Homo sapiens: one gene and its partners. The protein of the gene in region 1 interacts with the protein of each later gene in a biochemical or structural test. Each region holds a gene or a part of one and is shown in the gene's direction. Other genes may lie near its edges.

The links.
Region 2: the proteins of CRB2 (region 1) and LIMK2 interact in a test that uses a peptide from one of them, tested with the Homo sapiens proteins (one large-scale study listed by IntAct).
Region 3: the proteins of CRB2 (region 1) and PTPN3 interact in a test that uses a peptide from one of them, tested with the Homo sapiens proteins (one large-scale study listed by IntAct).
Region 4: the proteins of CRB2 (region 1) and TJP3 interact in a test that uses a peptide from one of them, tested with the Homo sapiens proteins (one large-scale study listed by IntAct).
Region 5: the proteins of CRB2 (region 1) and MAST2 interact in a test that uses a peptide from one of them, tested with the Homo sapiens proteins (one large-scale study listed by IntAct).
Region 6: the proteins of CRB2 (region 1) and RADIL interact in a test that uses a peptide from one of them, tested with the Homo sapiens proteins (one large-scale study listed by IntAct).
Region 7: the proteins of CRB2 (region 1) and GRIP2 interact in a test that uses a peptide from one of them, tested with the Homo sapiens proteins (one large-scale study listed by IntAct).

Annotation. Positions count from the first base shown.
Region 1 is NC_000009.12:123,354,772-123,358,996, forward strand, and holds the start of CRB2 (protein crumbs homolog 2 precursor), read left to right. Parts: upstream 1-1,425; 5' UTR 1,426-1,489; coding exon 1,490-1,583; intron 1,584-4,225. UniProt on the Homo sapiens protein: Apical polarity protein that plays a central role during the epithelial-to-mesenchymal transition (EMT) at gastrulation, when newly specified mesodermal cells move inside the embryo.
Region 2 is NC_000022.11:31,271,298-31,274,797, forward strand, and holds part of LIMK2 (LIM domain kinase 2), read left to right. Parts: intron 1-1,232; coding exon 1,233-1,407; intron 1,408-2,154; coding exon 2,155-2,210; intron 2,211-3,500. UniProt on the Homo sapiens protein: Serine/threonine-protein kinase that plays an essential role in the regulation of actin filament dynamics. Acts downstream of several Rho family GTPase signal transduction pathways.
Region 3 is NC_000009.12:109,488,308-109,491,807, reverse strand, and holds part of PTPN3 (tyrosine-protein phosphatase non-receptor type 3), read left to right. Parts: intron 1-3,500.
Region 4 is NC_000019.10:3,746,384-3,748,848, forward strand, and holds part of TJP3 (tight junction protein ZO-3), read left to right. Parts: intron 1-101; coding exon 102-312; intron 313-392; coding exon 393-493; intron 494-1,410; coding exon 1,411-1,698; intron 1,699-2,465. UniProt on the Homo sapiens protein: TJP1, TJP2, and TJP3 are closely related scaffolding proteins that link tight junction (TJ) transmembrane proteins such as claudins, junctional adhesion molecules, and occludin to the actin cytoskeleton.
Region 5 is NC_000001.11:45,802,431-45,806,411, forward strand, and holds the start of MAST2 (microtubule-associated serine/threonine-protein kinase 2), read left to right. Parts: upstream 1-1,181; 5' UTR 1,182-1,465; coding exon 1,466-1,642; intron 1,643-3,981. UniProt on the Homo sapiens protein: Appears to link the dystrophin/utrophin network with microtubule filaments via the syntrophins. Phosphorylation of DMD or UTRN may modulate their affinities for associated proteins. Functions in a multi-protein complex in spermatid maturation.
Region 6 is NC_000007.14:4,831,717-4,835,216, reverse strand, and holds part of RADIL (ras-associating and dilute domain-containing protein), read left to right. Parts: coding exon 1-610; intron 611-3,038; coding exon 3,039-3,076; intron 3,077-3,500. UniProt on the Homo sapiens protein: Downstream effector of Rap required for cell adhesion and migration of neural crest precursors during development.
Region 7 is NC_000003.12:14,491,975-14,495,342, reverse strand, and holds part of GRIP2 (glutamate receptor-interacting protein 2), read left to right. Parts: intron 1-353; coding exon 354-500; intron 501-1,516; coding exon 1,517-1,678; 3' UTR 1,679-3,368.

The DNA of each region.
Region 1 (4,225 bases):
GTGGATAAGGAGTCTACCCAGGCCTTTTTGGGTTCCCTCCTTTGGTCCCTGGGGACCCAGGGCTGTGGCACTTGCCCCGGGCTAGAGGGTCGGCCAGGGCCTGTGTGGTGCCCACTGCTCCCTCCCCTGCACTGCAGGGGACCCTTGCCCATCCCTCTAGCTCATCTGGACCTCCCTCAATGGCTCCTGCTGTCTTTCCAGGCTGTGTCCTCCCGTGTCAGGGACACATCCCAGAGCCCAGGGCCTGCGTGGGCTGTATCCACGGTTACTGAATAGGGACAAACAGGCATGTATTGGCAGGGGCCGGTGGCTCATTTCAGGAAAGTCCCTTCAGCAAGAGGATTCTCTCCCCACTGGGGCTGAGGGTGGTAGAAGAAAGGAATGTTGTTCTATGTTGTAGTGTCTCTGAGATGACCTGGCTTCCTGAACCAGGTCCCCCTGAAGAGCTCCTCCTGTCCACCCCAACAAGAGGCCAGCTGGAGAGCAAGCAAACATCGAGTGCAGCAGGAGACTATAAGGTTAGACAACAAGAAGGACTTCCTGGCAGGGGAGAGCAATGCTTGCTTGGTTAGAGCTGCCTTTCAGTAGAATGGGCTGCTTTGGATTGCAGTGAGGTCGCTGGAGTTGCAAACAGCAGAGCCAGAGATCAAGGTCAAGTGGAAGAAAGCTGGGAAAGGTTCAGTTTGGCTGGTGAAGGGTGGAGAGGGTAAAGGGAGGCAGGGACCACCGTGGTGCAGGGGTGAGGTGCCCTGCAGGGAGCTGATCCTGAGGCCGATGGTGGGAGGAGCTGTGTGTGGTCGGGTGGGACGGGGTGGGGACAGCAGGAGACACTGAGAAGGTGGCATGGCCAGGAGCTAGGGGCTGACCGAGTGTGGGGAGGGGGGAGTGGGGAGGGGGCGTTGGGCTGCCCGATGGGAGGTGCCTTGGCTCCGATGGGAGCACTGGGGAGCAGCAGGTGGGGGGACGAGCTGGGTGGGAGGGGCTGCAGCTTCCCAGCAGAGACAGGGTCTGGGAGGCGACTGGACTCGAAGGCCTGGGCTTGGGAGAGAGGCCCGGGCTGGAGAGGTGGGGAGGGGGATCCAGGAGAGGGGATAACTAAGGACTTGGGAGTAGCTGGCATCACCTGGTGAGACGAGAGTCCTGAACAGCCCCCTCTCCAAGGACAGAAATTTCTCCAAGGAGGCTGACCTGAGAGGTGGGAGGAGAGTGGGGCAGAGGGTCAGGAGGGAGAAACCAGTGGGTGCCAAGACCAGGTCAGCCCCACAGGCTAGGGGGCTTGAGGACTTGGGGCTGATGTCTAGGGACGTCCACGAGGTGGAGCAGCCCAGGAGGCCTGGGTGGGAGGAGGAGGCGGTGGCGGGGAGGGGAGGGAGGGGCTGGGCCTCTGTCCACAGCATTAGTGCTGGTTGGAGGGACGAGGGGGGTGCGGAGCCAGCCAGGCCGCCCTCCCGTTCTCACAGCAGCCGAGCAGAGCGCAGAGCGGGCTGCCATGGCGCTGGCCAGGCCTGGGACCCCGGACCCCCAGGCCCTGGCCTCTGTCCTGCTACTGCTGCTCTGGGCCCCTGCCCTTTCCCTCCTGGCTGGTGAGTTGGGGCCCATGTCTGGAGGGGCCTGGGAGAGGGTCTGTCCCCCAAGACAGATACCCCAAGCCTTGGCTGCTGGGGTGGTGGGTGGGCTGGTCCGCGTGGGTGCAGGCCTGAGCTGTGGGGTGCACAGGAGTGCGCGGCTGTGGCCCCCAGACTCTGTGGGGCTCCACGGAGGTGAGTGTGTTCTGAGGCTCGGGGCTGTTTCATGTTGAGGGGGGTTGTAAGTTTCGGGGTTGGGGGATCGGGGGCTGGGCATGATTTGGGGGAGCTGATGCGGGTGAGGGATGGGGTGCGTGTTTTGGGAGGTGCTGTGTTGCATCCTGTAAAGGGCTGGGGGACTTCTGGGTTTCTAGGGGCTGAGTTTGGGGAGTTGCAGGTGGCATAAGCCTCACCCCAGAGCTTGTTCTGTGTCGCATGCTGGGTTGTGGGGCACAGGTTGTGGGTGTGTTAGAGTTGGGAGGTGGATGAGCTGTCTGGGGTGAGCCGTGAGTTGTGTCCGAGGAGTTGGGTGTGGTGAGCTGTGTCCTAGCACACGCTGTGGGGTGTAGGTTGTCCAGGGTTGAACTAGGTCTTTGCTCTCAACATGAGGGGTGTGGGATGTGCACAGCCGACCCCAACTCGGGACTGAGTGGAGAAGCGTGAGGGAGACTCAGGGAGCTGGGTGCCTGCCCGCACCCCTCCATTTGTGCGGTAGCCCTGCCTGTGCTGAGGGCTGCTGGGGATGCTCTGGGTCCCTGTGGGGTGGCTGGGGATTTGGGAACATGTGTGTGTCCCCTGCTGCCCCCTCCCCAGCATTCCAAGGCCAATCTGAAAGGGCTCCCTGAAGCCAGACCACATTTGCCAAGCCCTTTTTGCTTTTGTCCAAGCTCTCGGAGCCTGGAATTCCTCCTGGGGGGTCCAAGGGAACGCTTGGTGTTAGTTACTATAGTTACAGGGGCCGGGCCTGGGAAGTCCCCTGCCCCCACCACCACAGGCTGGGGAGGGAGCCAAGGAGGGCCTGGGCTCTCCTGAGGCTGGGGGAGCCCTCCCTGCCCCAGAGCTCCACAGGCTGTAGGGTGTGGGGGCCAAGTGTCTCCCAGTCCCACCTGGGGACCCTCATGTTTCCCGCACTCACAAAGCTTTCATTTCCTATCCTCTCTATGGGGCCCTAGGGAGGATGAGGACCCCATTTTGCAGTGAAGGAAACCAAGGCTCAGAGAGGGACGGGGACTTATGAGCTGGGCTCTGCTGGCAGGCGACTTGGGCTCCATAGAGGGGTGGGGCATGGTGGCGGGGGGCGGGGTGGCTGCTCCTCTCTGTTCTCTGCATACAAAGCACGTGAGATCCCGGTCTGTGGATCGGTGCTCTGTCCCCTGCCCTGTGATGCTCACACACCCACACTCCGCACACCTGTGTGGCATGCCCAAGGGCACACAGCACCACAGGGACAGGTGCTACAGACACATGTGGATCTACCAGCACATGCACCTACCTACACACATGGCATGTGCCTGCACACCAATGTGCACACCCCAACACGCACATGTGGACATGTGTGCATTCACACTCAGTGTGCACTCACAGGGGACCTGGAGGCACAGAGTGGATGGAGGCTGTGGGGGGTCTGGACACTGGTGTGTACACTCAACCCATCAGGCCTGCTGGGTTGCCCAGGGGCAGCCTTTCCTCTGCCATTTCTGTGCTGGGAGCGCCATCCCTGGGGATCCCTAAAAGTTGGTGGGGTACACTGCAGGCATGACCATTTCTGCATGCTGGTACCCTAGACTGCCTGCCGGGAGGGGAGGGATTGGGGATTTTGTCACTTGAAAACCAATTTCCATCCTGGAGGGGATGGGGGCTTCTGGAGGCCATGGGCCCCTGGCTTTTCTCCCCACCCCTGCCAGGCCCTGAGCTGGGCCTCTCCATCCTGGGCCCAATTTGCCACAAAGGCCCGGCTGGTTGCCATGGAGAGGACCAAGCATCTTGGAGTACAATGGGGCACGTTGGGCTCTCATATCCACCCTCCCTTCCCCAAACACCCAGGGAGCCCAGCAGACAAAGGGGCAGTGAGTCCAGGCCCCAAGTCCGGCCCCTCCTCCAGCCAGAAGGGGGTGGGGGCCTGCAGGACAGAAGCAGAGATGGAGCAGAAAGCCACACACATTCAACCCAATGTCAGGATCCTTTGGACAGTGGGTGTCTGCCTCAAGTAAAGAATTGTTAATGAGTAAGATCAGCCACTCCATGGCAGGCACTGTGCTATTATTAACGAGGTCTAATTTAATTCTCCCAACAGCCTATGAAGTCAGCTCTGATACCCCTAGTTTACAGAGGAGGTAAACGAGGCCCAGAGATGGCCAGTCCCAGAGCCAGGAAGCCCCAGAGCCAGTGCTGGGATTTCACAGTACACTGTGCTACTTGCCTAGGCAAAGTCACGTCTCTTCTCTGTCTCTACAAAACGAGGACAGACTGGCTTACTCCGAGCGCTGGTATAAGGATTGGAAGAGAATGCAGTGAGCGGTTCCCCACCCCAGGTTTTGGCATGGAACCCCCAATTTCAAGGGAAATTTTAGATGGAAGCCCATGAATAGTTAATAGTAAAATTGTTAAAAGTGGCCTGTTTGGGTGGCAGGTGGGGAACCCCACCTGCTCTGTCTCCCCCT
Region 2 (3,500 bases), on another chromosome or scaffold:
AGAGGTGTTGCCTAGGAGCTCCTATCTTTCCCTTCCTGCTTCTTCCAATGCCCTTCTCTGTCCTCTGGGAGCTCCGAGACACACACAGACATAATTTCACCTTCTCTCATTAGCAACCTTTGAAATAATTTGATTAGAAGGGACTTCAGAAGTTTGTTGACTATATGTAGAAAACCCTGTCATTTTACCTGCTTTTGCCCCATAGTAGTCTTGTAAAACAGTTCATTGCTGACCCCATTTTACAGTGGTGGCACCTGAAGCCTCAGCCTGAGGCCACCGAGCTAGTAAATTTACAGGGACCAGTTTGAGACCAGCATTCCTCCCACTGCCCCTCAGCTGTGGTGGTTACAATGTTGTTTGTCTTACTGACTTGCTATCTGGCTTCCTGGGTGTCTACCGGCTGGCCCTGGCTCTGCCCTCTAGACCCACACCACGCAATCTTCATTCCTTTCCCACATGACTGCCCTGTAGCTATTCAAAGAGCTTGTCTCCCCCAAGTCTCCCCATCTACTGCCTCCACCTTGCCTTTTTCTGTCTTATCCTGGTTCTAGCCACTGCCTGAAATCATTTTAGGAATAAGACAGGACAGGGAAAAACAAAAGCAACCCCCTGTCCCACCTCTGAGTTCCACTCTCCAAGTCCCTGAGCCTCACCTCCAGGGCTCCAGTGGCTCTGCCATGAACCCACTGTGGGCTGGGAGTCTGCTGTGCACAGATACCAGACCCTCAGAAACACAAATGCCAAGTGTGTCTGTTTTTTTGTTTTGTTTTGTTTTGTTTTTTAGATGGAGTCTCATTCTGTTTCCCAGGCTGGAGTGCAGTGGTGCAATCTTGGCTTACTGCAGCCTCTACCTCCCGGGTTCTAGTGATTCTTCTGCTTCAGCCTCCCAAGTAGCTAGGACTACAGGCGTGTGCCACCACGCCCAGCTAATTTTTTTTTTTTTTTTTTTGTATTTTTAGTAGAGACGGGGTTTTGCCATGTTGGCCAGGCTGGTCTTGAACTCCTGACCTCAGGTGATTCACCCGCCTTGGCCTCCCAAAGTTCTGGGATTACAGGTGGAAGCCACCGTGCCTGGCCTGAGTGTGTCTATTTGATAGAGCTTTCTGCTCTGATTCTCCCTTGCTATACACCTTTTCTCCCCTTCTCAGTGGCTTCTCTTGCCTATGCTTCCTCCCCAGGGCCAGGTTTGAGAACATCCCCATGAAGTCCTGACCTGTCTTTTATCCTACCAGGACAAGACTGTGGTGGTGGCAGACTTTGGGCTGTCACGGCTCATAGTGGAAGAGAGGAAAAGGGCCCCCATGGAGAAGGCCACCACCAAGAAACGCACCTTGCGCAAGAACGACCGCAAGAAGCGCTACACGGTGGTGGGAAACCCCTACTGGATGGCCCCTGAGATGCTGAACGGTGAGTCCTGAAGCCCTGGAGGGGACACCCGCAGAGGGAGGACAGATGCTGCCCTTGCATCAGAGCCCTGGGAATTCCAGGGGAGGCCTGTGAAGCGTAGGACCGGATACCCAGAGCTGAGGATATTTTTCCCTTGCCAGGTGGGGCCTCACGATTTAGCTCCTGAGCTCAGGGGGCTGGGAACTGATCAGTGTCCCATCATGGGGGATAAGGTGAGTTCTGACTGTGGCATTTGTGCCTCAGGGATCGCTAAGAGCTCAGGCTATTGTCCCAGCTTTAGCCTTCTCTCTCCATGGTGAGAACTGAAGTGTGGTGCCCTCTGGTGGATAATGCTCAAACCAACCAGAGATGCTGGTTGGGATTCTTGAAATCAGGGTTGTGAGGCCTCAGAAATGGTCTGAATACAATCCATTTTGGAGTCTGAGGCCCAGAGAAGTTCAGTGAATTGCCTAGGAGCATACAGCTGCCTAATGGCAGAGGCTAGATGAACCCTAGTCTGGTTCTTTTCCACTTTAACGTGCAGTTTCATCCTAGGCAGTGTTATGTTATAAGGGCTCTCCAAGGCAGTTCACCTACAGCTGAGGAAGGACTATTTTCAGGTGGTGTCTGCGCAGGACAGCCTGTGGGGTGTCCCTACAGAACCTGTTCTAGCCCTAGTTCTTAGCTGTGGCTTAGATTGACCCTAGACCCAGTGCAGAGCAGGTAAGGGATGTAAACTTAACAGTGTGCTCTCCTGTGTTCCCCAAGGAAAGAGCTATGATGAGACGGTGGATATCTTCTCCTTTGGGATCGTTCTCTGTGAGGTGAGCTCTGGCACCAAGGCCATGCCCGAGGCAGCAGGCCTAGCAGCTCTGCCTTCCCTCGGAACTGGGGCATCTCCTCCTAGGGATGACTAGCTTGACTAAAATCAACATGGGTGTAGGGTTTTATGGTTTATAACGCATCTGCACATCTTTGCCACGTTCGTGTTTCATTGGTCTTAAGAGAAGGACTGGCAGGGTTTTTTTGTTTTAGATGGAGCCTCACTTCGTTGCCCAGGCTGGAGTGCAGTGGCACAATCTGGGCTCACTGCAACCTCTGCCTTCTGGGTTCAAGTGATTCTCCTGCCTCAGCCTCCCAAGTAGCTGGGACTACCGGCACACACCACCATGCCCGGCTAATTTTTGTATTTTTAGTAGAGACAGGGTTTCACCATGTTGGCCAGGCTGGTCTTGAACTCCGGACCTCAGGTGATCCGCCTGCCTCAGCCTCTAAAAGTGCTGGAATTAATAGGCGTGAGCTACCTCGCCCGGCCAGGTTTTTTTTTTTTTTTTTTTAGTTGAGGAAACTGAGGCTTGGAAGAGGGCAGTGGCTTGCACATGGTCGATAAGGGGCAGATGAGACTCAGAATTCCAGAAGGAAGGGCAAGAGACTGTTCATGTGGCTGTCTAGCTAGCTCTTGGGCCAAATGTAGCCCTTCTCAGTTCCCTTCAAGTAGAAGTAGCCACTCTAGGAAGTGTCAGCCCTGTGCCAGGTACCACGTGGACAGAGTGAGGAATCTTGGAAAGATTCCTACCTTTAGGAGTTTAGTCAGGTGACAGCATATCTCAGCGACTCAAACACACACACATTCAAAGCCTTCTGTAATTCCTACAAAGTTGTGAGGGGTAGAGGAGAGGAGAGACAAGGGATGGTTAGGATAATGAAGGAATGTTTTGTTTTTGTTTTTGTTTTTGAGATGGAGTTTCACTCTGTCACCCAGGCTGGAGTGCAGAGGTGCAATCTTGGCTCACTGCAGCCTCCGCCTCCCAGGTTCAAGCAATCCTCCTGCCTCAGCCTCCCAAGTAGCTGGGACTACAGGTGTGCGCCACCACGCCTGGCTAATTTTTGTATTTTCAGTAGAGACAGGGTTTCGCCATATTGGCCAGGCTGGTCTCAAATGCCTGACCTCAGGTGATCCACCCGCTTCAGCCTCCCAAAGTGCTGAGATTACAGGCATGAGCTACCGTGCCTGGCCATGAAGGAAGATTTGTTTTAAAAAATTGTTTTCTTTAATATTAATTGAACACCTCTGTTCAGAGCACTGGGCTGGTGCCAGAGGGTTTCAGACATGA
Region 3 (3,500 bases), about 14 Mb from region 1:
GGACTGCAAGAGCCTGGGACCTTCTCCCCCTCCCCACTGATTACTTCATCCTGTGGGTCTCAGCTCCATGATTGCAGAGCCTTTGCTCACCTTCCTGACTTGAGTTAAATTGTTGCTATAAATGTTCATGCCACCAGATCTCTCTCCATTATAGCACTTTTCCTAGTGGCAATTTTGCAGTTAATTAATGTAATTATTTGTATTAGTACCTGTCTCCCGGCTACACTGTAAGCTGTGTGAAGGCAGGGTCTCTTTTTTAAAAAAACTTTTTCTAAGTTTTATTTTTTTTTCTTTTAATGTTTTATTTTGATACAATTCAGACCCATAGGAAGGTTGTAAGAATAAATCAAAGAAGTCCCATAAATTCTTCACCCAGATTCCCCAAACATTACCATTTTATTCTTTTTATTTTATCCCTGTGTACATATATATCTATCCTGAACCATTTGAGGATTATTTATCAATGCCTCCTTTCCCCCTACATATATTTCCTAAAAGCGATGATATTCCGTAACTACAATACAAATTTTAGAATCAATAAATTAATAGTGATACAACATTGTTTAATCTATAAACCTCAAGTTTTATATACTTTTTTTTTTTTTTTTGAGAGAGAGTGTCCCTCACTCTGCCACCCAGGCTGGAGTGCAGTGGTGTGATCTCAGTTCACTGCAACCTCCGCCTCCTGGATTCAAGCAATTATCCTGTCTCAGCCTCCCAAGTAGCTGGGATTCCAGGCGTGTGCCACCATGCCCGGCTAATGTTTGTATTTTTTGTGGTGACAGGGTTTCACCATGTTGGATGCTGGTCTCGAACTCCTGACCTCAAGTGATCTGCCTGTCTCAGCCTCCCAAAGTACTGGGATACAGGCCCGAGCCACTGCGCCCGGCCTAGATGTTAGGTTTTGCCAGTTGTCTTAGTGATGTCCTTTTTTATAGCAAAAAAAAAAAAACTCTTATAAATGGGTTGCGTACGGTTGTCATGTCTCGTTAGTTTCCTTTAAACTAAGACAGTTCCCCAATTGTTCTTGGTCCTTCAGGACCTTGACTTTTTTTGTTGTTGTTGTTCCAAGATGGAGTCTCGCTCTGTCGCCCAGGCTGGAGTGCAGTGGCTCAGTCTCAGCTCACTGCAGCATCCGACTCCTGGGTTCAAGCAATTCTCCTGCCTCAGCCTCCTGAGTAGCTGGGATTACAGGCATGTGCCACCACGCCCGGCTAATTTTTTGTATTTTTAGTAGAGACGGGATTTCTCCGTGTTGGTCAGGCTGGTCTCCAACTCCCGACCTCAGGTGATCCGCCCACCTCGGCCTCCCAAAGTGCTGGGATTACAGGCGTGAGCCACCATGCCCAGCCAGACCTTGACGTTTTTGGAAAGTACAAGCCAATTATTTTGTAGAATGCCCCTCACATTGAGTCTGTTTTAACTCACCATTTTGTCCCCAGTGCCAAGCACAGTCCCTGGACCATCAAATGCACTCAGTAAATATTTGTTGAATGAGGAGAGGGAGAGATGGAAGGAGGTGCAAGGGGAAAAGTCAGCAGGTTTTCTGCTTTCTTCCAGCCCCACGCCTTTCCCTGCTGAGTGATGTGGGGTTTTTTTTGTTTTGTTTTTGTTTTGTTTTTTTTGAGATGGAGTCTTGCTCTGTCACCCAGGCTAGAGTGCAGTGGCGCGATCTCGGCTCACTGCAACCTCTGCCTCCTGGGTTCAAGTGATTCTCCTGCCTCAACCTCCCAAGTAACTGAGATTACAGGTGTCCACGACCACGCCCAGCTAATTTTTTGTATTTTTAATAGAGATGAGGTTTTGCCATGTTGGCCAGGCTGGTCTAGAACTCCTGACCTCAAGTGATCCACCTACCTCGGCCTCCCAAAGTGCTGGGATTATAGGCATGAGCCACCCCACCCGGCCTGGATGTTGTTATTTAGTTGCAGTCATACTGTATACAGGTTTGAATCCTGCTATTTTTATAACAAAGCTTTCCCCAAAAAAGAGAGGCTTCCTGAGAAGATAGTGAGCCTGCTGTCCTTGCAGATATACAAGCAGAAGCCAGATGATGGTTTGGCAGGGATACTGGAGAGGCAAATGGAATGTTTGATGAGGGGTGAGACTCATCAGGCTGGGCGTCCCTGCTAATCATGGGTAGACTTCTCTAACTGCAGCACTGACTTCACAGGCCTAGGCCCCCAAGAACAGTGCAACTAGAATTTATCATCCCAACCAGAACAATTTGAGAATAAAAAGGGGTCCTATTAATAATTGCACATGACTGACGGGTCTAAGCCGGGACTGCCCTAGGTAAATCCGGACGTGTGGTCACGTCCGGATTTAAGAGTGACTTCGAGGTTGAGATCAGTGCAGGGTGAGCCAGCATGGAAAACCCTCTAGCACTAGGAATCTTCTACCTGGATAAAGACAAAACTAACCTCTGCATGGCCTGCAGGCCTGATGTTTGTGGCTTTGGTCCCCACACCTCTGTGGTCCCACCTCCAGTAGGATGCCACTCCCAGCTTTGTGCCTGCCACACCGGCCTTTTGTCAGCTCTCACCTCACTATGGTACCTGTCTGCCACAAGGACTGGCAGAGTCTGGAACGTCACTCACATACCCTGGCTGGATGGAGGAGCAGGGACAGAGTTTATGATAGATGGACAGGGAGATGAACAAGCCAGCTGTGCTTCCCACTGACCAATTTCTAATAGAATTTAAGAGCCAGGGTGTGTAAGCAAAGAAGGGCAGGAGGCGGGAGTCACCCTAGACCTTATCTTCTTTCCTCTAGTGCTCACACTTCCACCTCTTCTTCCTGCACCAACGCCCACATCCCTGTTCCAGCCCTAGTTCTGAGATGATGACTAAGTCACTGACCTTTGGCAAAGGCAGGGAAGCAGGTGGCATTGGGGACCCAGGCAGAAGAGGATGGGCATTGGATGGACAGTAGATGCAGACAGGGACTTGGATGCAGAGAAACCAGGCAGGAAACCAGCATCTAGGGATCCCAGTAACAAGGTCACTACAGGGCCATTTATCAGGAAGTCTAGATTTGTAATATCAAGTGACCAGACACTCGGTCAAGGGGTCAGGCTCTGGGATCCATACAGTCTGGTTCTTTAACTTATTTTCTGCCTAGAAGAAAATACAAACCTTGCCTTCCTGGATTACAAATTATTATAGGATGAAAATGTGAAGATAATGGAGCTATTTTCTGGGAAGCATCCCAGTCATGTGAACTTTAAGAACACTGTCCAGTGCAGTCGTGTTTTTATTACTCTAGGCATCAGCAGCTTTAATGGAAAAGCCAGTTAGTAAAGGAATGTTCCGGTTCCTAGAATGCAAGATACTAGTACTGCTGAATGTTGGAAAGATTTTCTGGTTAACTGTGTTATTAGATTTTACTGCTTAAAAATGTACTTTCAGCCTGGTGCGGTGGCTCATGCCTGTAATCCTAGCACTTTGGGAGGCAGAGGCGGGTGGATCACCTGAGGTCAGGAGTTCGAGACCAGACTG
Region 4 (2,465 bases), on another chromosome or scaffold:
TGGGGTCCACTCTGACCTCAGACTCTTCATCTTTCTATCTTTCTCTCTCTGTTTACCCTGCTGCAATCCCCCTCACCCCAACGTCCGCCGGCCTGGCCCAGGACAAGCATGCGCTCCTGGATGTGACCCCCTCCGCCATCGAGCGCCTCAACTATGTGCAGTACTACCCCATTGTGGTCTTCTTCATCCCCGAGAGCCGGCCGGCCCTCAAGGCACTGCGCCAGTGGCTGGCGCCTGCCTCCCGCCGCAGCACCCGTCGCCTCTACGCACAAGCCCAGAAGCTGCGAAAACACAGCAGCCACCTCTTCACAGGTTGGGGGGTGGGTGTCCCAGGGTAGGCGGGTGGGCCCCAGCCTGAGTCTCCTGCACACACTGACGTCCCCTCCCTGCAGCCACCATCCCTCTGAATGGCACGAGTGACACCTGGTACCAGGAGCTCAAGGCCATCATTCGAGAGCAGCAGACGCGGCCCATCTGGACGGCGGAAGATCAGGTACTGCCGCGGTGTGGGTGGGTCGGGCAGGGAGGCCCCACAGACGCTGTGCAGGCCCAGCTGGGGTTTGGGGCCTCTGTCGGGAGTTAGGGCTTGGTCAGGGATCAGGACTGTGGCCAGAGTCAAGATGGGACCTGAGACAAGGGTGTTGGACTGGAACTTGGGTGAGATGAGATTGGAGGAGCTGTTTTTTGTTGTTTGATTTGAGATGGAGTCTCATGTCACCCAGGCTGGAGTACAGTGGTGTGATCTCAGCTTGCTGCAACCTCCGCCTCCCGGGTTCAAGTGATTCTCCTGCCTCAGCCTCCCGAGTAGCTGGGACTACAGGCGAGCGCTACCAGGCCCAGCTAATTTTTGTATTTTTAGCAGAGACGAGGTTTCACCATGTTGGCCAGGCTGGGCTCAAACTCCTGACCTCAGGCGATCCACCTGCCTCAGCTTCCCAAAGTGCTGGGATTACAGGCCTGAGCCACCGCGCCCAGCCTGGAGGAGCTGTTTTGAGAATGGAGTCAGTGGGGCACGGGAGCTCACGCCCATGGTCCCAGCTACTCAGGAGGCTGAGGCAGGAGAATCACTTGAACCCGGGAGGCAGAGGTTGCAGTGAGCAGAGATTGCGCCACAGCACTCCAGCCTGGCAACAGAGACTCCTTCTCATAAAAAAGAGAGAGAGAATGGAGTCTTCTCTTGGGGCTGGAGTCAAGGTTTGGGGCTCAGCTTGGATTTGGGGGCTGAGCCTCTCAGGTGAAGGGTCAATGGATACAACCCATCCTGGAGTCAACAGAGAAGCCTCCACTGAGGCTCCAGGCTCCAGGCTCCTCGCCTTGATTTGGGACCAGAGTTTGAAGGTGGGGGGATGTCGTGGGTGGCAGCTGGGGTCCTGGCCAGGGCCAGCCGCAGCATCCACACCCACCCCACAGCTGGATGGCTCCTTGGAGGACAACCTAGACCTCCCTCACCACGGCCTGGCCGACAGCTCCGCTGACCTCAGCTGCGACAGCCGCGTTAACAGCGACTACGAGACGGACGGCGAGGGCGGCGCGTACACGGATGGCGAGGGCTACACAGACGGCGAGGGGGGGCCCTACACGGATGTGGATGATGAGCCCCCGGCTCCAGCCCTGGCCCGGTCCTCGGAGCCCGTGCAGGCAGATGAGTCCCAGAGCCCGAGGGATCGTGGGAGAATCTCGGCTCATCAGGGGGCCCAGGTGCGTCGGACATGGGGGGCAGGCCTGGGAAGGGTCTCCGGAGGGGATGCCAGCACAGAGCAGACACACACTGGGAGCCTGTTTTCTACCAGGACGTCAACAAACACGGCTTCCCTGGTCAGACTGGTTTCTGGGACTCAGACCTGGGGTAGCTGAGACCCACGTGGCACTGAGTAACTTGCAGCATTTTTTTTTTTTTTTTTTTTTTGAGACGCAGTCTTGCTCTGTCGCCTAGGCTGGAGTGCAATGGCGCAATCTTGGCTCACTGCAACCTCCACCTCCCAGGTTCAAGCGATTCTCCTGCCTCAGCCTCCTGAGTAGTTGGGATTACAGGCACCTGCCACCATGCCCGGCTAATTTTTGTATTTTTAGTAGAGACGGGGTTTCACCATTGGTCAGGCTGGTCTTGAACTCCTGACCTTGTAATCCACCCGCCTTGGCCTCCCAAAGTGCTGGGATTACAGGCATGAGCCACTGCACCCAGGCTTTTTTTTTTTTTTTTTTGAGATGGAGTTTCGCTTTTGTTGCCCAGGCTGGAGTGCGATGGCGTGATCTCGGCTCACCACAACCTCCGCCTCCCAGGTTCAAACGATTCTCCTGTCTCAGCCTCCTGAGTAGCTAGGATTACAGGCGTGCACCACCATGCCTGGCTGATTTTGTATTTTTAGTACAGACAGGGTTTCTCCATGTTGGTCAGGCTGGTCTGGAACTCCAGCCTCGGCCTCCCAAAGTGCTGGGATTACAGGTGTGAGCCACTGCACCCGGCC
Region 5 (3,981 bases), on another chromosome or scaffold:
ATAGAGGAGCAGGCTGGTGACAGGCCGTAGAGCACATTGGTTATGTGCATCCTCCCGGCCTCCCAGAAGGAATCCATCACTTTTTCCACTTTTATAGGTGTTTCCGCACTGTCTTTCTGTCCGGATCTGGCAGACCTGGGTTTGAGTCCTGGCTCTGGACTTATAAGCTGTGTGATGTTGAGCATATTATGTAATTTGAGCCTATTTCCTCAACTGTAAAATGGAAATACAACTTACTTCTTGTTTGTGTATGTCTGAATTGAATGCACAGTGTGTGGTATGCAGTGGGCACTCCATAGTGTTGGCTATTTTTATTACTCAGAAAGGGGTCAGGGAAGAGGCCCAGGACAAATGGGTGAAGGCTTTAAGCAAGGCTTCTAGGTCAAAAGAGGAAAAACACAACATGTGGCAGACCAGCTGAAGCCAGAGGGAGGCCAGAGCTGAGCTACCACCACATGTTGCTGAGCAGATGAGTCACTGCAGGCAGCAGGTCAGGCTACCCAGGCCACAGCAGACTGGGCTGGGCTCTACACGATGACTTCATTGTATGCCTTTTTTGTCCTCTCCTCCTCCCAGAAGGAATCCATCACTTTTTCCACTTTTATAGGCGTTTCCACACTGTCTTACTGTCCGGAAAGAGCAAACACGGTGGAAAGGGACAGAAGAGCCAGAATTCCGTCTAGTTTGATCACTGATTTGCTGGGTGACCTGGTGCATTTCACTTCGCCTCAGTCTCTTTATCTGTAATATGAGAATGCGCAGATTTGCCTCCTAAGTGTGATGTGAGAATTAGGTGAGAGTTGGCAGGCACTAAATAAAAAAGCATGCATTAGCCTTCTATTCATTAGTTGTGTTATTCTGTCTCCTTCCTGCTCCCGGCCCCTCTCTCCCTAGTTCTTTGAGGACACCGATCGACTCGAACTCATTTTTGGGTCCCCAGCACTGAGCTTGGCCCAGCAGTTTCATGAATGGATGAATGAAAGATTCAATGGGAGTCCGCAGCCGCTGACGGCGCGCCGAGAGCCCCGCTCGCTTCTGGTCCTCCGACTGCGCGCCAGGGCCACGGGCGGGTCCTTTGCGACCGTTCGCTGGCGCGTGCGCGGGAGGCGGCGCGCGGCCGGAGGTGGCGGGCGGGCTCCCGGTGCGCGCGCGTGAGGGGCGGGGCCGGCCGAAGGCTGGCTGTAGGCAGGCGGCTGAGCCGGCGGCGGGTGGCCTGCCCAACGTGTGCTGGGTGGGAGAAGGCGAGGCGTCAGCGATGCTGTCTCTTCCGTGAGGAGCGCAGAGGAGGTCGCGGCGCCGGAGGCCCCAGAAGGCTCGAAGGCGCCGCGGGCTGGGGTCGGTGGCTTAGGGAGCCCGTCCGGCCATGGTGGCCGCGGGTGGTGGTTGGCGCGGCTGCGCTGCGGCCCGGGGCAGTGCGGAGCCGGGACAGTCGCGGCGCTGACGCCCGCGGGCCCCAGCTGCAGATATGAAGCGGAGCCGCTGCCGCGACCGACCGCAGCCGCCGCCGCCCGACCGCCGGGAGGATGGAGTTCAGCGGGCAGCGGAGCTGTCTCAGTCTTTGCCGCCGCGCCGGCGAGCGCCGCCCGGGAGGCAGCGGCTGGAGGAGCGGACGGGCCCCGCGGGGCCCGAGGGCAAGGAGCAGGTAGGGCGGGTTGGGATCCGGGAGGGTGAACCTGAATGGAAGCCGTGGGGGAGGGGATCTTCGGCGGGAGGACCCGGGCTGGAGCTTTGGAGGGGTGGGGTCTGAGTAGTTCGCGGGGAGGAGTGGGAGGTCTGGGGAGGCCGAGAAATGGGGAGTGGAGAAATGGAAGTGGTGGCCTGGGGTTGTATTGGAAATGGGGGTGTAGAAGAATGAAAAATTGGTGCAAGAGATAGTCAGGGGTTCTGGATGGGGCGAAAGGACGCTGGAATGTGGGCTGAGTGTGTGAGCTGCAACGAGTAGGCTTACTAAAGAGGCGTTGAGGAGTTATCCATAGGAGTAAATAGAGTAAGATGTAAGTCAATTTGATGTAGTGTTATCCTGTTTTCTAGAGGTTGTCCTTAAAATTGTAAAAACGGATGACACTCCCAAGCATTCTCTGATTTGGCCATCATTATACTTTTGTACCAGTGTGTTCACAATCATTGTTAAGGCTCTCTTTACCAACCATCTATTTCACAAGAAAGCACTTGTGAAACACCTGCATGTGAGCAGTGTTAAGCCCAATTTTGTGAACAGAATTCGTAGATATATGGTTTGCCTGCTAGTTTTCCACTGAAAACACATTACTGGGAAAACACAGCAGCATACAAATATTCATGGAGTTTCTGAATGAACAGGATATGTTTATGTAATTTATTAGTCAAGAGTAGGTGTATTTATGAGTAGGGGATAAAGGTCAGTTTTATCAGGCAGGAGAAGCTGCCACTAGTAGCGGTAATAAGTTTAGTGAAAGGAGAATAAGTAATCCTTGGTCTTGTTGGATTTACAGAAAAATGTTCTGTAGTAATGAACTCTAGTGACAGCTTTCCTTTTGTTCAGCTCTATTCGGGATCCTACTGACTTCATCCATGAATGTTTTAAGACTTCTTATAGGTCTCTTACCTCTTTTCTCTCAGATAAATTAGCATTTTCCTTAGACATTTTTTTTTTTTTTTGAGACGAAGTCTCGCTCTGTCGCCCAGGGGAGAGTGCAGTGGCATTATTTCGGCTCACTGCAACCTCCACCTCCTGGGTTCAGCGATTCTCCTGCCTCAGCCTCCCGGCTAGCTGGGATTACAGGTGCCTACCACCATGTCCAGCTAATTTTTTTGTATTTTTAGCAGAGACAGGGTTTCACCATGTTGGCCAGGCTGGTCTGGAACTCTGACCTCAGGTAATCGGGATTACAGGCATGAGCCAGTGTGCCCGGCCCTTTAGACAGTTTAAAAATTATATACCATGCTAGGTAGCCCTTGGACTTTTCCCCCCTTTTGTTCTTCCACCTCTTATTCCCCACTGAGCCCTGAGGAGACTGCACCATTGACCATCTCTGCCCCGCTTCTAGCTGCTGAGCATTGTCCTCTTGCTGCAATTTACTCCCCCATGTGCCTAATACTTATCTTTTACATTCTCTGCAGTATCATCTAGTCAAAACTTGTACAATGAACTTCAAGTCCAGGTCCTTTCCTGTCTCAGTTTACCTGTCCAGTTGACCTTACTGCGTATTTCATGGTAGAGTTCAAGATTACTTGATTTTTCCCTCCTCTTTATTTTATGATTTTTGTGTTTTCTCATCCTTAGCTTCAGTCTCAGAGAAAAGTACTCATCCTCCTCTCCGAGGCTAATTTCTCTACTTATGTCCTTGATTTCATCCTCTTTTGTTTGCCTTAGACCCTTGTTACTCTCTTTGTTTTATATCACAAATAAAAACAAAACAACATAATTTCCCTGAATTGTGTAACCTACCCAAACTACTTTGTTATCTCTTCTTTGCTTCCCCAACAACCTTCTTGAAAAATGAGTTTGTATTCAGTGTCTTAGCTTCCTCACCTTGTATACATTTCTAATATGGTTTGGCTTCTTCACTTATGCTTTCCCAAAACTGATGTCTTTAAGGTCACCGAAAGCTTTTTTTGTGTGGGATTACTTTTTTATTGAGGTTTGACAAATCAAAGGTTCATTCAGTCCATGAAATATTACAGAATGAGTACCTGTATGATCACAACTCACATCAGGATGGAGAACATTCCCAGTACCCTAGAATGCTCCCTGTGCTTTCTCCTAGCACTACTCTTTTACAGATGTAACCTCCCTCACCACCTCTGTCACTATAGATTTGTTTTGAACTAATACTTCATATAAATGGAATCATAGTGTGTACTGTTTTGTGACCAGATTCTTTCATTCGGATCATGTCTTGAGACTCATCCATGTTGTTGCTTGTAGAAACAGTTCTTTTTCATTGCTGTGTAATTTTCCATTGTATGAATGTATTGTGATGGTTACTAAAACTTATTTTT
Region 6 (3,500 bases), on another chromosome or scaffold:
CCGGGACCGGCACACGGTGGGCCAGCGGACCCCCTCCAGCAAGCCCAGCATCAGCCTCTCAGCCCCCGACATCCTGCCTCTACACTGCACCATCCGCCGGCAACCGCTCCCGGACAGCGGCCAGGCCGCGGGGAGGCTGGTCCTGGAGCCCATCCCCGGGGCGCACATCTCCGTCAACTTCTCCGAGGTGGGGCACAGGACCGTGGTGCTGCACCACGGGGACCTGCTCTCCCTGGGGCTCTACTACCTGCTGCTATTCAAGGACCCCGCGCAGGCCCAGCCCCTGCCCGCCCGGGCCTTGGCGCGCCTCCGGGCTGTGCCGCAGAGCTGCCGGCTGTGCGGGGCCGCGCTCGGGGCCCGGGGAGCCGCCTCCCCTACTCAGGCCGCCCTGCCCCGGCGCCAGCAGCTGCTCCTGGAGTTTGAGCCCCACCTGGAGGACACGCTGCTGCAGAGGATCATGACGTTGATCGAGCCGGGGGGCGACGACCACAAGCTGACCCCCGCCTTCCTCCTGTGCCTCTGCATCCAGCACTCGGCCACCCACTTCCAGCCGGGCACATTCGGGCAGCTCCTGCTCAAGATAGCCAGGCTGATCCGCGAGACTGTCTGGGTCAGTGTGCTGGGGTGGGCGGTCTGGGTCCTGTGCCGGTCTGGGGGAAGAGGGGGCCCGGAGCTGGCCCCGGCTGGGAGGCGGGAGCGCCTCTATCTGACCCCCACGGTGCTGTGCTGCTGAGCGCAGGGCGGCCTTTCCCTGCCTGTCGCTGCCCCCCAGCCCCACAGGCCACCAGAAGCAGCCCCAGAACCCAAGGTGTCAGCTGCAGCCCTTTGCCCCTGAGGGTGGGGTTTGCGTGGGGTCCTAGGTCACCTCCTGAGCTCTGGGCTTGTACCCTCCCTGGGGTCCAGCTGGGCCCAGCACTGTCACGTGCCAGGAGTGAGCTGCCCCTGAGCCTGGGCACCACGAGGCCGAGGTGACATTGATAGCTCTCACAGGCCCCTGCCCAAGAGCCCCAGAAGCCCCTGTGTGTGCCGGCGCCCTGTGCTTGCTGCCAGGGGCCGGTTGAGCACATACCCGCTGGAGCCATCCCTGATCCGAGTTTGGAGGTGCAGGGCCCGTCACCTTTTGTGCGTTGACGAACTTTCCTCCAGGCCAGCCTCTCTCATCCCCGGCCCTGTGGACACTGTGGCAGGAGAGCTCCTTGCTGTGAGGCTGGCCTGTGCATTGCAGAGGATTCAGCAGCATCCCCGGCCTCCACCCCTAGATGCCGGTCACCCTCTGCCGCCCCGCCACACACACACACGCAATACACCCATGGCTGCAGGCATTGCCAATGTCCCCAGGAATCCAGTGTGGCCGCCAGTGAGCAGGACCGCCCTGGGCCCATGAGTGCTGGAACAGGCATCACACAGTCATGGCCCCCCGCTGGGCCCCACCCCACAGTGACTTGGCTCCCAGGGACCCGAAGGACAACTCGTAGTTGTTCAAGTTCGTTCAGAGACCCTCAGATCCTCGCTAGTCTGGGCCCCGCTTATCCCCGGCAGACAGGGGAAGGGGGAACCACTTGACTGTGTAGAAACCTTATCACTTTCTCATATCGAAATCCACATTTTAAATGTCTGAGACTTTTAAAAAGTAAAAGCCAGCTCAGGCTTCCCTGTCCAGATGTCAGTGGGAGCCGTCTCTGTGCACCGTGGGTGTTGTAATCTGGGTGTCCGTGCCTCTTCCCCTCGGGTTCCCGGCTTGGGATTTGATGGGAGTGCCACTGCAGCGTGCCCGTGTCCCCTCCGTGCAGTCATGGACACAGGGCCAGGTGATGTCCCTGTAGTGTGTGTCCACATCGTGGCCACTGTGACCGAGAGTTACCTGCTGGCCAGAAGTCATGGGTTTTCGCACGATCATTGTCATTTCCCGAGTCTCCTCTGCGCCAGGCACTTACTTGCAAACCAAACGCTGTTTAATTTCTTTATCACAACCACCCTGACGATGTAGATGCCACACCCCATGTCACAGCCAGGGAAACTGAAGCCAGGGGGCCGTAAGTCACTTGCTGAGGGACCCGGGTCCCAGCCTGTGTCCCAGCCACCTGGGGCTCGCTGTGTGGCTGGCCCACTCCCTGCAGCACACCAGGGCTCACCCTGCCCCTATGCTACAGGCTCTGAAACAGAGGCTCCCAGAGGTGAATTGCCTGGTCCAGAGATTGAGCTGATAGACATGAGACCGAGCCTGAGTCCACCTCTTCCCCCTGCACCCACTGTGGGAATCCGAAGCCTCCGCTGGGTGCTGTCCAGATCCCATGCGAATATCATTTGCGCGTTTGTTTCCTGAGAATGTGCAACTGTGTCGCCGCTGCCCCGTCCTCATTCCTTACCAAATATACACGCTTAGTCTACGCGCACTCAGCCATCACGGTTACATTCAGCCGGATAATAACTTACTACTAAGGCAAGAATAATTCTTTTTTTTTTTTTTTTTTTTTTGCTGAGACGGAGTCTCGCTCTGTCACCCAGGCTGTAGTGCGGTGGCGTGATCTCGTCTCACTGCAACCTCTGCCTCCCAGGTTCAAGGGATTCTCCTGCCTCAGCCTCCCAAATAGCTGGGATTATAGGCATGCGCCACCACACCCGGCTAATTTTTGTATTTTTAGTAGAGATGGGGTTTCACCATGTTGTCCAGGCTGGTCTCGAATTCCTGACCTTAAGTGATCTGCCTGCCTCAGCCTCCCAAAGTGCTGGGATTCCAGGTGTGAGCCACCTTGCCCAGCCTCTACTATTTTTTAAATAGCCGGTTGTTATGTAAGCTAGAGAGTTGTGAGATACTCTATTGTAGCAAACTTGTAGGTCATAGTCGGTAATGGAATGGGAAGATGTTGAAGTCACATGGAAAATGTCCTTTCCAGCACAGCTTGAATAAATAGTCAGCGTCACACAGGATGCCTGGGGCAGCATGGCTTGTTTTCCTGTCGATGGTATCGTGTATTTGAACGCGTCCCTGTGTTAGCCTGTTTTGCTCACTTGCTTTTTCTCCCGCTTTGTAATTGTAGGAGAAAACCAAAGAACTAGCAGAGAAGCAGGCGCAACTGTGAGTATGACCCGGTTATTGTGCCCGCCTCTGGGCAGCAGGTCCTGGGGGCTCACACTTCCCGGGGGAGCCAAGTCCCGAGGGGTCTCCCCACGCCTTGGGGTCAGCTCTGGGCTTTGTCCTTCCATCCAAGCAGCGGCCTTTTTTGCTTCTTTAGTCATCACCCTGGGAAGCTCTGAGTTTTGGGAAATTGCTTCAGGGCACCCTTAAGACTGGATGGGTGAGGTCTTCTTTTTTTGTTTGTTTTTGTTTTGTTTTGTTTTGTTTGCTCTATCGCCAGGCTGGAGTGCAGTGGTGCAATCTCTGCTCACAGCAACCTACACCTCCCAGGTTCAAGGGATTCTCTTGCCTCAGCTTCCCGAGTAGCTGGGACTGCAGGTGTGCACCACCATGCCTGGCTAATTTTTTTTTTTTTGTACTTTTA
Region 7 (3,368 bases), on another chromosome or scaffold:
CTGAGCAGCTCTTTGGTAAATGGGAATGAGTGACGGTCAGGGGAGGTAACAGTGCCCTGGCCAGGCCTCCTCCCTGATAGAGCCAGAGGACAGAGAAAGGGCTGAAAGGAAGTCACTCCTAAGGGCTCCGTCGTACTTGAGTGTTGTGGCCTGGAGCATCTGCTGAGGGAGGTTGGCAGGGAGCGGGGTGGCGGGGGTGGCTGAAGGCCCAGGGGCAAGAGGCTGGGGTGCTGCAGCCTGGGGGGTGTGGCTGGCCAGAGGCGCTGAATGCCAGACCAAAGGACCTGGGCTACTGTGAGAGGCTGGGGGCAAAGGTCAGAGTTCCAGGAACCTCCTCCTCCTTCTGCTTCCAGGTGACCCTGCACAAGGACCCCATGCGGCATGACTTTGGTTTCAGCGTCTCAGATGGCCTCCTGGAAAAAGGTGTCTATGTCCACACTGTGCGCCCTGATGGGCCAGCCCACCGTGGAGGCCTCCAGCCCTTCGACAGGGTCCTGCAGGTAATGCTGGGGCAGGGGCTCCATAGTGGGGGTGGCATTGTTTCCTAGCCTGAGGGTGGGGAAAGAGCCTGCATCTATCGCCTGTGAAGAGGGCAGGACAATGCAAGTCTGAGTCAGGTTAGCCAAAGTTGCATTGCGGGCCCCAGCACCCTCAGCCTCAGAGGCTGAGCACACACAGACCTTTCTTCTTACACCCCATGCCCATTGTGGGCTGGTGGGGGCCTTCTTGTCCCGGGCTGATGGAGCATCCGCCCATCTTGGAATTGACCCTCTGAGACACGTGGCCTCCTCAGACTCCACAGCAGAGGAGACAGACTGGAAAGTCACACGTGGATTTTTTCCGCCTTCACCCAGAAGCAACACTCATCACCTTGCTTCACAGCCGATGGACCAAACCCCTCATGTGACCTTCCTAACTAACTGTGAGGGAGCCTGGGAAGCGTGGGACATCGTGTACTGGGCACTCCGTGCCGCCCCTTCTCATGCCCTGGCTATTTTTGCTCCCTCAGTGTGTTTTTTGCCATATTTATATGAAATTTACTCAATTCATGTTTTCTCTAAATTGATGGCACTTTTTCAATTTACATTTGACTTTGAAAGGAAACTTTTTGTCTCCATTAGGAGTGAAAATCTTGCACCCCTTGCTTTGAAATAGAAAGTGGGTGTAAAATGCAAATAAAATAGAAAGAAGACAATGTCACATCACACAGTTCTAGGCAGGAGGCTCTCTGAGTGTGTGGTCTGCTCTTTCATGTGAGAAAGGGAGAAAAGCAAGAGTTAGAGGGGTATGAAAGGTATACCTGCCCCTTCCTAGAACTTTCTCTTTGATGAAACCTAACAGAAGGACTGAGAGAGAGTTAGAGGAAGAATGTTCCTCTGTGTGTGGTGCTGGTGATGTCAGGGCTTGCGTCAAGGCTGGGGCAGGACCCATCTTTAGGACATCACATGCCTCTTGCTCCCTTCAGCGCAGCAGGGCTGACATCTCGGTTCTGTTCCCTTGCTTGTGCCCCATGCAGGTCAACCACGTCCGTACACGGGACTTCGACTGCTGCCTGGCGGTGCCACTCCTGGCCGAGGCGGGTGATGTCTTGGAGCTGATCATCAGCCGCAAGCCGCACACGGCACACAGCAGCCGGGCCCCCCGATCGCCAGGCCCCAGCAGTCCCCGGATGCTCTGAAGTCAGCATGTGGGCCGAACTCCTAAGGGGCCACCCAGGCAGATCCTGGCTCCCAGACACGTAGCTGGGCTGGAGAAGCGGCCACCCACTCATTCATCTGTTGGTCTGGCAGACTCTGAGCCTGGGATGATGCTTGGTCTCTGTTCCCCAGGTCTGTGGTGACTGGGGTGCCAGGCAGGGAGGTCCTGCCCTAGTTGGAGTGACAGCTGGGGTCTCTCGCCAAGTTGGGTCTCCAAGATGCCCAGAGGAGCCTCCCTTAAGAAGGGTTGGCACAGGCTGCTCAGCCGAGAGGAGAGAGGCCTGGGGGCTGTCCCAGGTCTCTGTGGGGCCTCCTTGGAGAGGTCGAAGATGTAGGGAGCACTTCCTCCCAGCAAAGCCATGGAGCTGGAATGAGCTGCAAGGAGGAGTGAGTTCTCGGTCACAGGAGGTGAGCAGGCAGGAGCTGGATACCCCAGCGCAGTCATGCATTGGGGTATGAGGCATTCCCATGATGCGTGCACACGCGCTTGGGGGTTGGCTTCCTGATGGGGAGCCACTTCATCTAGAGACTCGGCCACCAGGAAGGATGCTGCTTCGGATGGGAGCCCAGCTCCTTCGCTTCTCCAGAATAGGGGTTTGGGGCTTGCTAGTCCTGAGATTCTGAGATTCCCAGAATCTGGTCCCCACTTATGAGACTCTTAAGTTGGGGCGTCTGGGATCCCAGGAAGTGCTGGCCCTTTGATTCTGAAAGTGGGTGATTCTTTGATTTCAGCATCTCAGTCTGAAGCTTCTGGGACTTGAGACTGTGGTTCTGGGCCCATTGGGCAGGCTCTATGGGCCTTGGGCTCTCAGCCCTCCTGCTTCTTCTGTAGGCCGTGTGGCCACTGACCCATCTGCACGTCCGCTCAGCCCAAGCCCCTCCATGTGGGAGGGGTCATTTTGGGGCAAAAGACCCTGGAGCTTCCATTCACCTGCCATCCAGTGAAAATTGAAAAGCGATGGACGCAGGACCTGTGAGGCGGTAGCGCTCCTCTTTACAGCCAGATCAGTGGAGGAAGAGGAGAAAGAGGGAGGGAGATGGGAGAGAAATGGGCCAGAGAAAAAGATGGGACACTCTTGCCCAGTGGAGGGTGTCCAAAGTGCTTATTCAAAGAAGTCTATTCCCACTTGAAATCTGGAAGCACCAGCATCCCTTAAAATCATTGTCCTCAGTGTCCACAAATCAGAGACCCTCTTCATTTTGAGAAGGGTGTGGGCCTCCCCTGGTGGTCTAGTGAGTGGTGCCTGGGATGGAGTGGGCGGGCAGGTGTAGCCAGGGCTGGGGATGTGCTTTGCCTGGCCCAGTTCTCACAGGGGTCTCAGGAAAACGGGGCACCCACTCCCACCTCCATCTGTCTCCAACCTGGGGTCCCTGGAGGCCAGAAAAGTGCTCTTCCATTTGAGGGAACAGATGAGGAGTCAAGAGGTCTGTTCTTTTCACCCTGGGTCTGTTACCTGTTTGCTGTGTGACCCTGTCTGGGTTGGACCCCCAGCCCCTCTGGACGATCACGGGTGGACAGTCTGAGCAGACACAGGCCTCCTGGTCAGGGCCGGAACCATCTCTGCCGACCCACCAAGGCCCCCTTGGGGACCTGCCCACGCTGTCTCCTGGAGGCCTGCCTCCCTTACCCCTCCCCTCCACTTCGCTGGGCTCTGCCCCTTGGTGCCCTCC